2 linked regions of the Homo sapiens genome follow. The protein of the gene in region 1 purifies or fractionates together with the protein of each later gene. This does not show direct contact. Each region holds a gene or a part of one and is shown on either strand. Other genes may lie near its edges.

Evidence for each region.
Region 2: the proteins of GTF2I (region 1) and ZMYM3 purify together in Homo sapiens (co-immunoprecipitation; 2 studies listed by BioGRID and IntAct, with this or other methods). This does not show direct contact.

Annotation. Positions count from the first base shown.
Region 1 is NC_000007.14:74,750,841-74,758,717, forward strand, and holds part of GTF2I (general transcription factor II-I), read left to right. Parts: intron 1-520; coding exon 521-576; intron 577-1,249; coding exon 1,250-1,330; intron 1,331-2,253; coding exon 2,254-2,337; intron 2,338-3,005; coding exon 3,006-3,189; intron 3,190-4,668; coding exon 4,669-4,697; intron 4,698-5,979; coding exon 5,980-6,021; intron 6,022-7,118; coding exon 7,119-7,160; intron 7,161-7,877. UniProt on the Homo sapiens protein: Interacts with the basal transcription machinery by coordinating the formation of a multiprotein complex at the C-FOS promoter, and linking specific signal responsive activator complexes.
Region 2 is NC_000023.11:71,243,603-71,251,479, reverse strand, and holds part of ZMYM3 (zinc finger MYM-type protein 3), read left to right. Parts: intron 1-235; coding exon 236-302; intron 303-753; coding exon 754-1,048; intron 1,049-1,276; coding exon 1,277-1,454; intron 1,455-1,800; coding exon 1,801-2,019; coding exon of another isoform or gene 2,020-2,037; exon of another isoform or gene 2,038-2,276; intron 2,277-2,310; coding exon 2,311-2,461; intron 2,462-2,678; coding exon 2,679-2,794; intron 2,795-2,955; coding exon 2,956-3,042; intron 3,043-3,167; coding exon 3,168-3,318; intron 3,319-3,573; coding exon 3,574-3,746; intron 3,747-3,969; coding exon 3,970-4,135; intron 4,136-4,787; coding exon 4,788-4,885; intron 4,886-4,967; coding exon 4,968-5,127; intron 5,128-5,381; coding exon 5,382-5,494; intron 5,495-5,637; coding exon 5,638-5,812; intron 5,813-5,994; coding exon 5,995-6,141; intron 6,142-6,586; coding exon 6,587-6,690; intron 6,691-7,009; coding exon 7,010-7,178; intron 7,179-7,499; coding exon 7,500-7,651; intron 7,652-7,877. UniProt on the Homo sapiens protein: Plays a role in the regulation of cell morphology and cytoskeletal organization.

The DNA.
Region 1 (7,877 bases):
CATGATCCGCCTGCCTCGGCCTCCCAAAGTGCTGGGATTACAGGCGTGAGCCACCGCGCCCGGCCAATGGCCACCTTTTATGCTTTTGGCCAGGTCTGCAGAGGTTTGGCAGCCTCTAAGCCCTCTGCTTCTGCTTCCGGAGTGAGAGCCTCAAGTGCTCCTGTTTTCACAGCCCATCTTGTGTTTCCATGCTGCGTTTGTGGGGCGTTTTCTCTTTGCATCCTCAATTCTGGCGCTGATTCTTTTCAGGATACATTCTAACCTTGGAAAGAAGATGCCAATAAAACCAGTGTAGGGGAAGGGCAGCCAATGAGAGGCAGCAATGGATGTTAAATTTACAATTGTGGTTTGTCTTTTTGGCTGTGGTTCTTTAGATAAGCATGTGATTTCTGTTCTTCATGACTAAGAATTGAATTTAGACTTTACAGAGTTACTGGTTTGTAAATCTTTGAGTTGTTTAAATTTTAATGTTAGAGTTTTACTGTTTGATCAGCACATTTTTTTTCTCTTTTGTCTATAGGCCCGAAATGTTTGAGACGGCGATTAAGGAGAGCACCTCCTCTAAGAGCCCTCCCAGTGAGTGTATTTTCTGTATTTTCATTGCTATAGAACACACGCTCTTAGGCATGCATTGTGCAGCTGTGGTTTACAAACATTGTTTAAAGAATAGCCATTGAGGCCAGGCATGGTGGTTCACGCCTGTAATCCCAGCACTTTGGGAGGCTGAGGTGGGTGGATCACCTGAGGTCAGGAGTTTGAGACCAGCCTGGCCAACACGGCAAAACCCTGTCTCTACTAAAAATATAAAAAATTAGCCAGGCGTGGTGGCAGGCGCCTATAATCCCAGCTACTCAGGAGGCTGAGACAGCAGAATCACTTGAACCCGGGAGGCGGAAGTTGCAGTGAGCCGAGATCGCACCACTGCACTCCAGCCTGGACAACAGAGCAAGACTCATCTCAAAAAGAAAAAAGAAAACCCATTCAAAGTTGTAGTTCAGGCTATTTCACAATTTTTAGTTATTTAATAATTGGGTGGCTCTGTGAGTGTGTGATGATCTCCTAAGTACCCCCAGGAAGAGAAAAACAGTGAAAGGCAGCCCTTCAGGGGGCATCATGTCTTCTTGAAATGATCTACCATGGAAAGAAAGAACCTTGAACAGGACTGAGATAAAACAGTCTCAGACAGCATGATTATTAGAGATGTTGACCGTGTTTTCTACAAATTCTGATTTTAAATGTATATTTTCAGGAAAAATAAATTCATCACCCAATGTTAATACTACTGCATCAGGTGTTGAAGACCTTAACATCATTCAGGTGACAATTCCAGGTATGAGTTCTCTGCTTCCATCAGAGTTTTTGGGGGTCTCTTCAGGGCCTCTTGGACTTTCCCAACTAGAGAGGTTTGCTCAGCTCATCCGGGGACTCGGATACATTACACGTTGCCTGGTGCTCCTCCCAGACTCCTACAGCAGTTGCCTTCCAAATACAGTTGCTCTCCAAACAGCAACGGCAAGTTTTGGCACTTGGCATGAGCTAAATCCTGTTAACCACCCAAATGGCTAGTCTGTTCCTTAAAAAAAGTCTATATGAGACCGGGCACGGTGGCTCACGCCTGTAATCCCAGCACTTTGGGAGGCTGAGGCAGGAGGATCGCTTGAGGTCAGGAATTCAAAACCAGCCTAGCCAACGTGGTGAAACCCTGACTCTACTAAACATACAAGAAAAATTAGCCAGGCCTGGTTGTGTGTGGCTGTAATCCCAGCTACTTGGGAGGCTGAGGCAGGAGAAGTGCTTGAACCCGGGAGGTGGAGGTCGCAGTGAGCCGAGATGGGGCCAGTGCACTCCAGCCTTGGTGACAGAGCCATACTCCATCTGGGAAAAAAAAAAAATCTATATAAAACAGCAGGTAAAGGTCTTTATAACAAGAATAAATTTGTAGCATTTTTAGTTAGGCATTATTTTAAACAATTTCAAATTTAATTAGCTCAAAGTGCTCAAATACTTAAATCATTAAAAAATGGAAAATGCTTGAAAACATTACACAGAGCTCCTAAAAATTGGGATTAAAAGTGCATCATTGAGCAGCGGCTTGTACCTGTAGTCTCGGCTACTTGGGAGGCTTAGGCAGGAGGATCGCTTGAGCCCAAGAGTTCAAGGCCAGTCTGGGCAACATCGTGAGATACCATCTCTTTACCATAAAAAAAAAAAAAAGCAGTATTTAAGTTTTGGGTTTTCTCTGAACTGTTTCAGATGATGATAATGAAAGACTCTCGAAAGTTGAAAAAGCTAGACAGCTAAGAGAACAAGTGAATGACCTCTTTAGTCGGAAATTTGGTAAGTTTTGCATTTGCAAAGTACAGTTGCTATAAGCAAAGAGATTTGTTTTAATAAGATCTTTTCAGCAGATGATGGTTGGATGGTTGTAATCCTATATAAAAGGAGTTAAAATTTAAAAGTGAGTTGTTTGTGCTAAATTTATTTAATAAGATACCATTAGTGTTACACTATTGATTGTCAGTATGAAAGTTAATGAATTTAAGGTTCACCATCTGGCAGTGTGGCTCACACTTGTAATCCCAGCACTTTGGGAGCCCGAGGCAGGTGGATCAGTTGAGGCCAGGAGTTCGAGACCAGCCTGGCCAACATAGTGAAACCCTGTCTCTACTAAAAAATTCAAAAAATTAGCCGGGTATGGTGGTGCACACCTGTAATCCCAGCTACTCAGGAGGCTGTGGCACGAGAATTGCTTGAACCTGGGAGGCAGAGATTGCAGTGAGCTGAGATCAAGCCACCACACTCCAACCTGGGTGACAGAGCAAGACTCTGTCTCAAAAAAAAAAAAAATTTAAGGTTCATATTTAAATTTGTTTGAAGTGTACAAAGACCTTAGTTAACAGCAGAGACAGTCTTTAAAATAAATGTTGATCTTGTGCTTTTGACAGGCTGTTTAAGGCGGTGGGTTAATCTGTGCTGTTGTGCTGTTTGTCTCACTGTCCCTGTAGGTGAAGCTATTGGTATGGGTTTTCCTGTGAAAGTTCCCTACAGGAAAATCACAATTAACCCTGGCTGTGTGGTAGTTGATGGCATGCCCCCGGGGGTGTCCTTCAAAGCCCCCAGCTACCTGGAAATCAGCTCCATGAGAAGGATCTTAGACTCTGCCGAGTTTATCAAATTCACGGTCATTAGGTAAGTGAGAGTTTCCTGCTTAGTCACAGGAGCGAATCTGGAGCTCATGAGGCTGACTCTTCTAAAATGCAGCCACAGGTAGTCATCGAATCCGGCTTCCTATGCTGTGCAATCAACAAATCAAAATAACTTGTGTCATCATTAGAATGTCAGATGTGCTTCTACGAACTAAGCTGACTCTTTTAATTCTTTGGCAAAGGGTTGGCAAACTAGGACTGTTTGCCAAATTCAGGCTGCCTCCTATTTTTAGAGTCTTCCTGAAACACAGCTACACCCGTATTATCCATGGCTGCTTTCCTGTCACAGTGAGTAAGTAGCTGGGACTGAGAAGGCATGGCCTCCAAAGTCTAAAATATTTACTCTCTAGCACTTTGTAGAAAAACCTTAGCTAGGCACAGTGGCTAACGCCTGTAATCCCAGCATTTTGGGAGGCCAAGGCAGGCAGATCACCTGAGGTCAGGAGTTCCAGACCAGCCTGGCCAACATGGTGAAATCCCATCTCTACAAAAATAAAACAGTTAGCTGGGCATGATGGCGGGTGCCTGTAATCCCAGCTACTCGGGAGGCTGAGGCAGGATAGTCGCTTGAACCCAGGAGGTGGAGGTTGCAATGAGCCAAGATCATGCCACTGCACTCCAGCCTGGACGACAGAGTGAGACTCCATCACAAGAAAAAAAGAACTTTGTCAACCTCTGTCTTAGGGCGCCTTGTCACAGGCTTCGGGTCAGACGGATTCAACCTTGCATCAGCCATTTGTTAGCCAGGTCACTCTGTTCTTTGTCTGTAAATGAGATTGATCGTTGTTCCCACTGAGAGTGTCAGCTCCTTCCCGTAGAGCAGGCATGATGATTGTACTCACCTCTGACACCATTGTGAGTGCCACATTCCTTCCCACGTCCTTGTCACTGTAAGAGATGCCCACCTGAGCACCAACCCCAGGTTATCTTCCCCTTTGTCTTCCAGCCCCCCAGAAACAGCTACGACTCAACCTACCCAATCATTTCATCATCAGATTGCCACTGTCTCTAGTTCAGGTCTCTTGGAACTGGCACTCAGAAATCTCATAATAAATCCTCTTGAGGCTTCTCATACACTCGTCTTCTTCCAATCTTCTTTCCCTCAAAATCTCATATTTTGGTTCCACTTCACCCACCGTCATTCTCCATATCACTCCCAGGAGTTAGGCAAAAAGCCCCTTCCGTTCTTCCGTATGTTAAACTTAGAATCACTCTGTTCCCTGCTCTGCGTTTCTATTTTTTGTTTTTCCTCCATTTACTAGTAGCTTAACACTTTCTAACAGTGTTCTTATTATTGATACGTATCTATCTCTTCCATAAGCTTATAAGGTCACGGATAATACTTCTCATTGTAGTACGTAAATGACGTGGGCTAGATATGAGTTGAATAAACAGTTATACCTGTAAATTCTTACAGAGTGAAAATAAATTGTTATACTTTACAATTTGTTTCTCTCTTTAGACCATTTCCAGGACTTGTGATTAATAACCGTGAGTATTTTGTGAAGTGTTTTGTTTTTGTTTTTTCCTGGGGTCTGACGTGTGTGCGTGTGAGTGTGTATACATGCTTAACGTATATCACGTTACTTCACCTATGTCAGTAACCAGGCCAAATACTTGTTTTAGCCCTCAGTAAAAACACCAGGCACTTCCTAGTTGTAAAATTATTCAAGCTTCTTAACTTCCTATCCTCGATGCACTTAATCATAAAATGGTAATAATAGCACCGATTTTGGGGGAGTCGTTCCAGTAGATGGAAAGCATCTGGAACAGGTGTCAGCAAGCTCCTGCCGACGTGTATGCATAAAGTTTTATTGAAACCACCATCGTGTCCATTTGTTTATGGCAGAACTGAGAGATGGCAGCAGCAAGTGTGTGCCTGCAAAACCTAAAATATTTACTAATTGGCTCTGCAAGAAAAGAGTTTGCATCCCCCTAACCTAGAACAGTGTCTAGCCTCTAGTATGTGTTTAGCCTACAGTATGTGCTCAGCGAATACAATCTATATTTATTACTGCTTTTATGACTGTTATAATTACTGTGCTTGGATTTCGTTACAAAGTAAGTCACAATGTGCCTGCTTCTGTTAGTATTTCAGCACAGTGCCTGGCACACATGGGGCTCTCAAATATTGCTGAGCGAGTGAACAAATGTCCTTTCAATTCCTTAACGTTGATGTCATTTTCAATAGTATTTTGAGCCAAACTTAATTTTGCGAGTGTGTTTTGTTTTCTTAACTTTATTATTAAAAATGTATAAAAGTGAGGCCAGGCGTGGTGGCTCACGCCTGTAATCCCAGCAGTTTGGGAGGCTGAGGCAGGCGGATCAGTTGAGGTTGGGAGTTGGAGACCAGCCCGTCCAACATGGTGAAAGCCTGTCTCTACTAAAAATACAAAAATCAGCTGGGTGTGGTGGCACGTGCCTGTAATCCCAGCTACTCAGGAGGCTGAGGCAGGAGAGTTGCTTGAATCCTAGAGGTGGAGGTTGCAGTGAGCTGAGATCGTGCCATTGCACTCCAGCCTGGGCAACAAGAGCAAAACTCTGTCCCAATAAATAAATAAATAAAATGTTCTCTTTTGTTCCTGTTCTTGTGCGGTAGTGTGGTATAGAGTTTTATGGTAATTACTGTGAATTAGTGATTCTGAGGGACATATCAGAACTCTGAGGTTTGTTTCCTTCTCATCTTGAGGGAAACAGCAAATGTATGTTAAAATGCTTTTCCAAGGGAACAACACATCCTTACATTATTTAAACCAATCTGCTTCATTTTCAGAGCTGGTTGATCAGAGTGAGTCAGAAGGCCCCGTGATACAAGGTGAGCGAGGCAGGGGAGGGCCCGGAGCTACTCCTGCCTGCACAGTGGCACAATGGCGTGCCTGCGTGTGGCTTTGGCTCTCAGTCACCTGCCCTGAGGGGACTCAGTTACACAGCACACACATGCTTCTCTGTGGTTTTCACTCCTGGGTTTGACAGCTGATCAAAACATAAATTCAAGCTGTGGGTCCTGATTGAGAACTGGGGGCTGCAGACCATTTGCACCCCCTATCCCAGCTCAGGCCTAACATCAGGAACCCCAGGATTAATGGGTAGGATGAAATGGCAGAGCAAGAGGGCCGTCACTTTAACCTGACTCTGCCATCCATTTCTAATGTCTGCCATAAGTCAGTGAGCAAAATGTTCTTCAGTAGAAATGTACACATTGTGCTCTTAAAAAATTCCTTAAAAAACAAGTGGAATGGCCTGGTGCTGTGTGAGTCATTGAAAGTAATGAGACTGGGCGCGGTGGCTCACGCCTGTTATCCCAGCACTTTGGAAGGCTGAGAAGGGTAGATCACTTGAGATCAGGAGTTCGAGACCAGCCTGGCCAACATGGTGCAACCCCGTCTCTACTAAGAATACAAAAACTAGCCAGACGTGGTGGCGTGTGCCGGCTACTCAGGAGGCTGAGGCAGGAGAACCGCTTGAGCCTGGGAGGCGGAGGTCGCAGTGAGCCAAGATCGTGCCACTGCACTCCAGCCTGGGCAACAGAAAGGAGATTCTGTCTCAAAAAAACAAACATACGAAGAAAAACAAAAAAAGTAATGAAAAGCTTTTATTAAAGGGAGTAAACAGAAGGATAAGGGAGAAAGCATAACTAAGGAGCTTGTTTTCATGGTAGAGCTATGTTAAGACTCTGCTCTTTCAAACTTCAGTTGCATATGTGAACTTAGGACCACATTTGAAAAACAGAAATTTGAAAGTACACTTGGATAATCGTGTGCTCCATCTCAAGACCGTGAGCATTGTTTCATCATGCACCTGTGTTTGTACAGAGTCTAGAGGGCTTTTCTCCTCTTCCTCCTCCTGGGTTCTTTACATAGTATAAAGCAGCTGTTGAACAATGTGGAAATCAGTCTCTGTGTTTCTCTTTAGAATCAGCTGAACCAAGCCAGTTGGAAGTTCCAGCCACAGAAGGTAAAAGGGTGGGGTGGTCCTGCAAGTCCTTAAGACTTCTTCTTTCTTCTTCTTCTTTTTTTTTTTTTTAAAGACAGAGACTTGCTCTGTCACCCAGGGTGGAGTGAGGTTGCGCGATCTCTGCAACCTCCGCCTCCCGGGCTCAAGCAGTTCTCCTGCCTCAGCCTCCCGAGTAGCTGGGATTACAGGCCTGCACCACCATGCTTGGCTAATTTTTGTATTTTTAGTAGAAACGGGGTTTCACCATGTTGGCCAGGCTAGTCTCAGACTTCTGACCTCAAGTGATCCGCCAGCCTTGGCCTCCAAAGTGCTCGGATTACAGGCGCGAGCCACCTTGCCCAGCCAAGACTTTTTTATCAGGACAAAGGATTGTGCATTTAAACTATTTCACTAGAACTGGGTGGTGGTTTTGCTCTCTTTCTTCTGGGTGAATTGGATTTGCAGGTTATGCTGTTGAGTGATGACGCATAGCTGCTTTTGCTCCATTTCCCCCAGATGACTTGGTAAATTCTCCGTGAATGACTCTGCTACATAACCTAGATAACCTAACGTGTGTCCTTTAAATGCATGTAAGCCAGAAGATGTATGTTACTTTGAAAACATAAGTAACAAAATTTTGAATGTATTGCTAAAGAGATGTCTCTCTGAAGCTCTTTTGATGTTTGGTGTCTTGTCCTTCTTATTAAACCATATCTTAGTAAATAGTTTGGTACGAAT
Region 2 (7,877 bases), on another chromosome or scaffold:
TGTTGTTCTGTAGAGAGTGTGTGTAAGGAGAGTTAGGAGGAGGGAGGGAGCACTAGTGTCTACTGCTTGTTGGGGAGAAAGTCCAACCTCCTTTTCTTCCCTCCTCCTAAGGGCTGGGCCAAGGGTCCCCACTCTCCCTTCCCCCTCCCATCTTCTATCCCCCCCCAAACCCTGTACTAGTGTTAGCCTGGCCAGGGTGTCAGTTTTCCTCCCCTCCCATCTTTCCGAGGTACAGAAGAGAAGCGAGCGCGTTAGGAGAGCAGAACCTCCAAAACCTGAGGTTGTAGATTCCACTGAGAGCAGTAAGTAGGATTTGAGGAAGTGTGACCTGGGAGTTCTGGGTGTGGAAAAGGTCCGAAAGTGGCATGCGGCAGGGCATGGATCTTCTAGCTCCTGCCGTCCTGCTCCATGAAGCGCATGAAGTGCCTGTCTCTGCTATGGGTTGGCATGGGAACCAGGGGCAGTGGGGGAAATTGAAAACAAGAGCAGTGAGAATGGCGAGTTTCCTGTTTCAGCTATGCCATCTCTGTCTCCGAATCTTCTCATTTAGAGCCTCTCCCTTTCCCTCCCTGGGAGGTTACAGAGTAACCAAGGGAGAGAGACACCAAGGTCTTAAGATACTGATGTAACAAGGGCCAGGGTGTAAAGGCCGGAACAACAGGGATCCCAGGAGAGGGACTGAACTGTTGGTCAGGGGATGGTTGGAGACCTGGTTTGGTGGCCTTTCTCATGTCCATCCCCCCACTTTCTCAGTTCCAGTGTCAGATGAGGATTCTGATGCCATGGTAGATGACCCCAATGATGAGGACTTTGTGCCATTCCGGCCCCGGCGCTCTCCTCGCATGTCCCTACGCTCAAGTGTGTCACAAAGGGCCGGGCGCTCTGCAGTGGGCACCAAGATGACTTGTGCACATTGCCGGACACCACTGCAGAAGGGGCAGACTGCCTATCAGCGCAAGGGGCTGCCTCAGCTCTTCTGCTCGTCATCCTGCCTCACCACTTTCTCCAAGAAGCCCTCGGGCAAAAAGACCTGTACCTTCTGCAAGAAGTGCGTGAGGGTCTTGGGGGCTATGCAGAGGGCAGGGATCTGGGCAGGAGTATGAGTAAGACAGAGACTGTTGGTAAGAACCTAGCAGGATGGAGCTGGGCGAGAGAGTGATGTAGGGAGAGAGTCAGAGTATTTGGCTCTGTGGTCATTGATCCTGGAGGAGGGGCGGAAGCTGAGGAAATGAGAGGGTGGTCTTGAGTGAATATTCAAACCTGTTCCCACCTCTAGGGAGATCTGGAACACCAAGGACTCGGTTGTGGCGCAGACTGGTTCTGGAGGCTCCTTCCATGAGTTCTGCACATCCGTCTGTCTCTCCCTGTATGAGGCCCAGCAGCAGCGCCCGATCCCCCAGTCTGGGGATCCCGCCGACGCTACTCGCTGCAGCATATGCCAGAAGACTGGAGAGGTGAGGACACTCAGTGGGGGCTGATTTACAGAGCCTGGCCAGCCCTGACCTGCCCCTCCCATCCTGGGGCTGCAGGGTCCAGGCCCTGTGGAAAGGGGAGTGGGGAGGAAAGGCGGCCATCATGAGGGAGCGTATTCAAGGACAGAGCTTCTCCAGGATGTGCACAGCTGGCCTTCCTTACCTCCCAGGACCTCACCATCAAGTCGGCAGCCTGCGGCGCAGGTTGGGGGGTCCCTGGGCCCACTGTCTGCTGTGAAGGTCTAGGGTGAGGTGGGGGGCTGACCTTGCATTGGGGTGGGCGGTGGTGGCCAGGCCCTAGCTCAGGGTGCGTGTATGTGTGTGGCAGGTCCTGCACGAGGTCAGCAATGGCAGCGTGGTACACCGGCTCTGCAGCGATTCTTGCTTCTCCAAATTCCGGGCCAACAAGGGACTGAAAACCAACTGTTGTGACCAGTGTGGGGCTTACATCTACACCAAGACCGGGAGTCCTGGCCCTGAGCTCCTCTTCCACGAGGGCCAACAAAAGCGGTTCTGCAACACAACCTGCTTGGGGGCGTACAAGAAGGTGGGGCCGAGGGAGTAGTGCATTAGAGGGCTGTGGAAGGGGGTGTGGTTCTTGGGTTATAAATAAAGGTGGCTGATGGGTCAAGGGCTGGGAGAAATAAAACAAATAAAGGGGGTTTCAATTGTATCCGTTATGTTTTATTTTTGAAGCTGGCTGGTGGATACACAGGTCTTTGTTACATCATCATCTATACTTTTTTTGTATGCCTGAAATATTTCATGTTTAAAACATTTAAAAAATAAAAGTGAAGGGACAAATCCAGCCTCAGCCTCTCCTTCCCCATCCTCACAGAAAAACACACGTGTGTACCCATGTGTCTGGTGCAAGACCCTGTGTAAGAACTTTGAGATGCTATCACATGTGGATCGTAATGGCAAGACCAGCTTGTTCTGTTCCCTGTGCTGTACCACTTCTTACAAAGTGAAGCAGGCAGGGCTCACTGGTAGGTGCAAAGCCCTCTTCTCTGAGTCCCCTGCTGGCCTTCTCTCTACCTCCCATACTCCCCTCTTCCAGAGTAATCCTTGCTGCCCGACCTCAGTCCCAACCACATCTCCCCATGGATTTTCTGTTCGTCTCTTACACTGCCTTACACCTTCTGTGTGCTCTCTCTCTCCCTCTCTCTTTCTCTTTTCCTCTCTCTCTTTCTCTCTATGCCCCAGGCCCTCCCCGACCCTGCAGCTTCTGCCGCCGCAGCCTCTCTGACCCCTGTTACTACAACAAGGTTGACCGCACAGTCTACCAGTTCTGCAGCCCCAGCTGCTGGACCAAGTTCCAGGTACTCCAGACCCTGGACCAGGGATAGAAGGGTTTGGCAACATAAAGAGGGTTGGAGAATTGGGGTAGGCAGGCCTGGGCAGAGCAAAGAACAAGCCTGACTCCCCTTCCCCACCGCTGCACACATCTTGCCCCTCCCTTACTTGTCTTCCTTCCCTCCAGCGCACAAGCCCTGAGGGGGGCATTCACCTGAGCTGTCACTACTGTCACAGCCTCTTCAGTGGCAAGCCTGAGGTCTTGGACTGGCAGGTAAGAGCCCCACCCCCACCCACGTCTTGCCACACGACCAGACTGTCTGAAGGGGTCCTTCCACTTGGCCCCTGCTGGGGCCAGATGTTACAGCTTGTCCTCCCTGCCCTGTGCCCCCACCTCAGGACCAAGTGTTCCAGTTCTGCTGCCGTGATTGCTGTGAGGACTTCAAGCGGCTTCGGGGTGTGGTGTCCCAGTGTGAGCACTGTCGGCAGGAGAAACTCTTGCATGAGAAACTCCGATTCAGCGGAGTGGAGAAAAGCTTCTGCAGCGAAGGTAAGGAGATGGGGAAGGGCAGAAGACACTATAACTCCCAGCCAGGGAGAATGGAGGAGAAGGGAGGGAGGCCGGGAAAGTGGTCCATGAGGCAGGGCCTTCTGCCCGGGATGTTCTACCCCCATCTCCCCTAAAGTTTTGGGCACAAGGGGCTGCTTAGAGAGAGGTTTCAGGTATAGCACCTTGAAAAGGTTGGGTCTCTTGCCCTTGGGTATCTGTGTCTCTGGACTCTCTTTCCTCTTCTCCTCTTTCCAGGCTGTGTGCTGCTGTACAAACAGGACTTCACTAAGAAGCTGGGCTTGTGCTGTATCACTTGTACTTACTGCTCCCAGACCTGCCAGCGCGGAGTCACCGAGCAACTGGATGGCAGCACCTGGGACTTCTGCAGTGAGGACTGTAAGAGCAAGTACCTGCTGTGGTACTGCAAGGTAAGGAGGGTCAGCATGCGAGCGAGGCGGGAAAGAGGGCAGTGGGGAGCACGGGCTGTGGTACTGAGCTCGGGGTGTGGACAGATCTCCAGGGAGGGCAGCCAGCCTTCCATCTCTAAGCTGGCCCGATCTCCAAGGGGAGGAGCATGGCTTATCCCGGGGGAAAGAAAGGGCCCAACGCATTTTAGGGAGGCAGGTCTGACCATCCTTTTGACATCCTCAGGCTGCCCGGTGCCATGCGTGTAAGCGCCAGGGGAAGCTGCTGGAGACCATCCACTGGCGTGGGCAGATCCGTCATTTCTGCAACCAGCAGTGTCTTCTGCGTTTCTATAGCCAGCAGAACCAACCCAACCTGGATACCCAGAGTGGGCCCGAGAGCCTCCTGAACAGTGAGTCCCAGGCAGGGGGTACACTCTGTTAGAGGGAGCCTGGACTCTCCTAATCCTAAGCCTAGCCCCTTTCTCCTTCCTCTTGCGTTCAGCTCACCCCTGGCCAGATAGGGTGCTAGTACTGTGAACTGTATTCTCTTTTAGCTTCCGAACCCTGCAGGTACCGGGGGAGTCTTATTTAAAGCTTCTTGGAGTTAGCATCTACTGATTGTCTATGAAATATATATTGTTAGGGAGTGGGTGCCTTTCCTGGTAGGATGGAGCATATAGGGGTTATGGTTACGTTTCTGAGATAAGGAAATCTCAGCATAAACTCTACATTTAGTGAGACTGAAGACTGCTATTTCTAGAATGTTACCCCTGCCCCTCCACAACTCCAGGGATAACAGACTCTTCAGGCTATCTAAGTGGAAGGTCTCAAATGTGGGTTTTGGGGGAAAATGTAATGTTTCATTCTCCAGGAACAAATAATCTTTTAGGCTGCTATTGCTGGGGCATAGAGGAGACTAGATCTGGGATGGCAAGGGGGTCAAATCCTAGAAGTTCCCATCTGTATTTGGTGTACCTGTTAATGAAGCTCTCCTGGAACAGGGGTAAGGAAAATGGAGAGCTAGTCCCTTGGATGAGAGCATTCATTTGTTTTGATCTACAGGTCAGTCTCCTGAGTCAAAACCCCAGACACCCTCTCAAACCAAAGTGGAGAACAGCAACACAGTGAGGACCCCAGAGGAAAATGGGAATTTGGGCAAGGTCGGGGCAAAAGCCAAGGGGGAGGATAATCTCAGAGGAGGGTACGGCGGTTGGTGGCACAAATGTTCCTCTGTCTTTGCAGATCCCTGTGAAGACCCGATCAGCTCCCACTGCTCCCACCCCTCCACCCCCACCACCCCCAGCAACACCCCGCAAAAACAAGGCTGCCATGTGTAAGCCACTGATGCAGAATCGGGGCGTCTCCTGCAAGGTGGAGATGAAGTCCAAAGGAAGTCAAACAGGTGAGCCAGGGTACCTCGATGCCACAGGCTGTATTCCAGAGTCCTAGGCCTGCCAGCCCTATGTCCGTGAGCTGGACAAGGGGATTTCTTAGGTAGCTGAAGCCTCATTCATATGGTTGTCCTAGAATCATAGAGGTGTCTTTCAGCCTTTGATTCAAGGGCAGTTTTGTGACACTGAGCATGTTAGAGCTTTTGGTGGGTCAGATGTGACCAGTCCAGCAGGGTCTCTGAGAAGACCCCTTTCTTATCCACAGAAGAGTGGAAGCCACAGGTGATCGTGCTGCCCATCCCAGTGCCCATCTTCGTGCCAGTGCCTATGCATCTGTACTGCCAGAAAGTCCCGGTGCCTTTCTCGATGCCTATCCCGGTGAGTTTCCCTGCCCTTCCTGGCTGGGTCCTCCTTTCCCCTTACTCTCATCAACTGTCCCCCTTCACTCATCATCTGTCCCCCCAACTTCCCCCCAACTGCTGGTGTGGTTCTTGGCATTTAGTTGGGATTCGTGCCTCCAGGTGCCTGTGCCCATGTTCTTGCCCACTACCTTGGAGAGCACAGACAAGATTGTAGAGACCATTGAGGAGCTGAAGGTGAAGATCCCTTCCAACCCCTTGGAGGCCGACATCCTGGCTATGGCAGAAATGATTGCAGAGGCTGAGGAGTTAGACAAGGCCTCATCTGACCTTTGTGGTATGCCATAGATGGTGGCGACGAGGGAGACAGGGTGCTACCAGCATGTCTCTGCCCGAGGGGGTGGTATTGGTGATCTTGGTGCCTAGTAGAATGGGAGGATAGTTGGGATCAGTCCCTGAAAGCTTGTGAGGGTGCTAGCAGGAGCTTGTAACCACTGAGCCAACTTCTCTGCTTCCCAGATCTTGTGAGCAACCAGAGTGCAGAGGGACTCCTGGAAGACTGTGACCTGTTTGGGCCTGCTCGAGATGATGTCCTGGCCATGGCAGTCAAGATGGCCAATGTCTTGGATGAGCCTGGGCAAGACTTGGAGGCAGACTTCCCTAAGAGTGAGTAAGATTGGAGCCATGCCCACTGAGTATGGTAGCATTTGTGCCATCAGGAAGGGAGTGTCCCTTGTGTCCCTGAGCATGACCCTGAAAAGTGTTCATTGTGATTCTAAGACGGAAGGTTCTCACAGGGAGCAGTGCCAGAGACACCAGGACAGGTGCACTCTTTTAGACTTCTGAGTCATGCTTTTTTTTTTTTTTTTTTTTTTTTAATTTTTAAGCTGAAAAAAAACATAAAATTTTACCATGTTCAACATGTTTACGGTTCAGTAGTTCACATTGCTGTGTTTTGCGTTTCTGTGCCTCTGAGCATGCTTTTTGGTATAGCTTTACTGGTTCCTTTGGCTCATCTAGTGTCAAGTGGGCAAGTAGCAGGGGTGGGGCAGGAGGGCTGCAGGGTTGAGATCTTAAGAAATTGATTTCTTCTTTCTTTCCTTTTCATTAGATCCTCTGGACATTAATCCCAGTGTAGACTTCCTCTTTGATTGTGGCCTGGTAGGGCCTGAGGATGTGTCTACTGAACAAGACCTTCCCCGAACCATGAGGAAGGTAGGGCTGGGGCTACTGTATGTACAAAAGAAGAATGGAGGCCCAAAGGGGAGATGATGCGAGAGCCAAGCCAGCAACCATAGTTTGACCTTCCCTAACCTCCTTTCTCCAACACTAGAAGTACTGAGATAAAGCCAAACTTTGCTCTCCCCCCATCTCACAAGGTCATCAAAGCTGTTCCTGGGGCTCTGTGCTATGGAAGCTTGCTGTGTGCTTACATCAGCCCCTGCCCCGGCCAGCAGTAAATATGGTGCTGACTAGCTTTCACCTTGCCTCTGGCCTTACCTCTGCCATGCCCCTGCTTTCTCTTCCCCTCCAGGGTCAAAAGCGGCTGGTGCTTTCCGAAAGCTGCTCCCGGGACTCCATGAGCAGTCAGCCTAGTTGTACCGGGCTCAACTATTCATATGGTGTCAATGCTTGGAAGTGCTGGGTGCAGTCAAAATATGCCAATGGAGAAACCAGCAAGGGTGATGAGCTGCGCTTTGGCCGTAAGTACTTGGGGATGGGGGGTGTGGGGAGGCAGGGACAGGGAGGAGGAGGGGAAAGGGGAGAAGGGGCTGGGCCTGTGATTCAGCTGAAGATGTCTAGAAGTGATAAGGGTGTGATCCCTTAAGGATGCCCTGTGAAGATGGGGAGGAGTTGTAGATTAAAGGGAAATGCTGTCTAGGTTCCAGGTTAGGGGCTCTTTCTGTAATTGTTCAGGAGCTAGGCATGACTAAGGGATGGAGGGGTTAATGGTGATGGAGCTAAGTGAAATTCTCCATGTAGAGTTTTTCTTAATCCTGTCCCTGCACAACATATCACTGCAGCCAAACCCATGCGTATCAAAGAGGATATTCTCGCCTGCTCAGCTGCTGAGCTCAACTACGGTCTGGCCCAGTTTGTGAGAGAAATCACTCGGCCCAATGGTGAACGATATGAACCTGACAGTATCTACTATTTGTGTCTTGGCATCCAGCAGGTACCTCTTGTGCACCACCTCACTTCCTGTCACTCTTAACACAGCAGGCAGGGTCTAAACAGAAATGATTCTGGGTTAGGCACGGTGGCTCACGCCTGTAATCCCAACACTTTGGGAGGCTGAGGCAGGAGGATCGCTTCAAGCCAGGAGTTTGAGACCAGCCTGGGCAACAAAGTGATACCCATCTACCCAAAAAATATTTTTTTAATGAAAAAAAAAAGCAGTT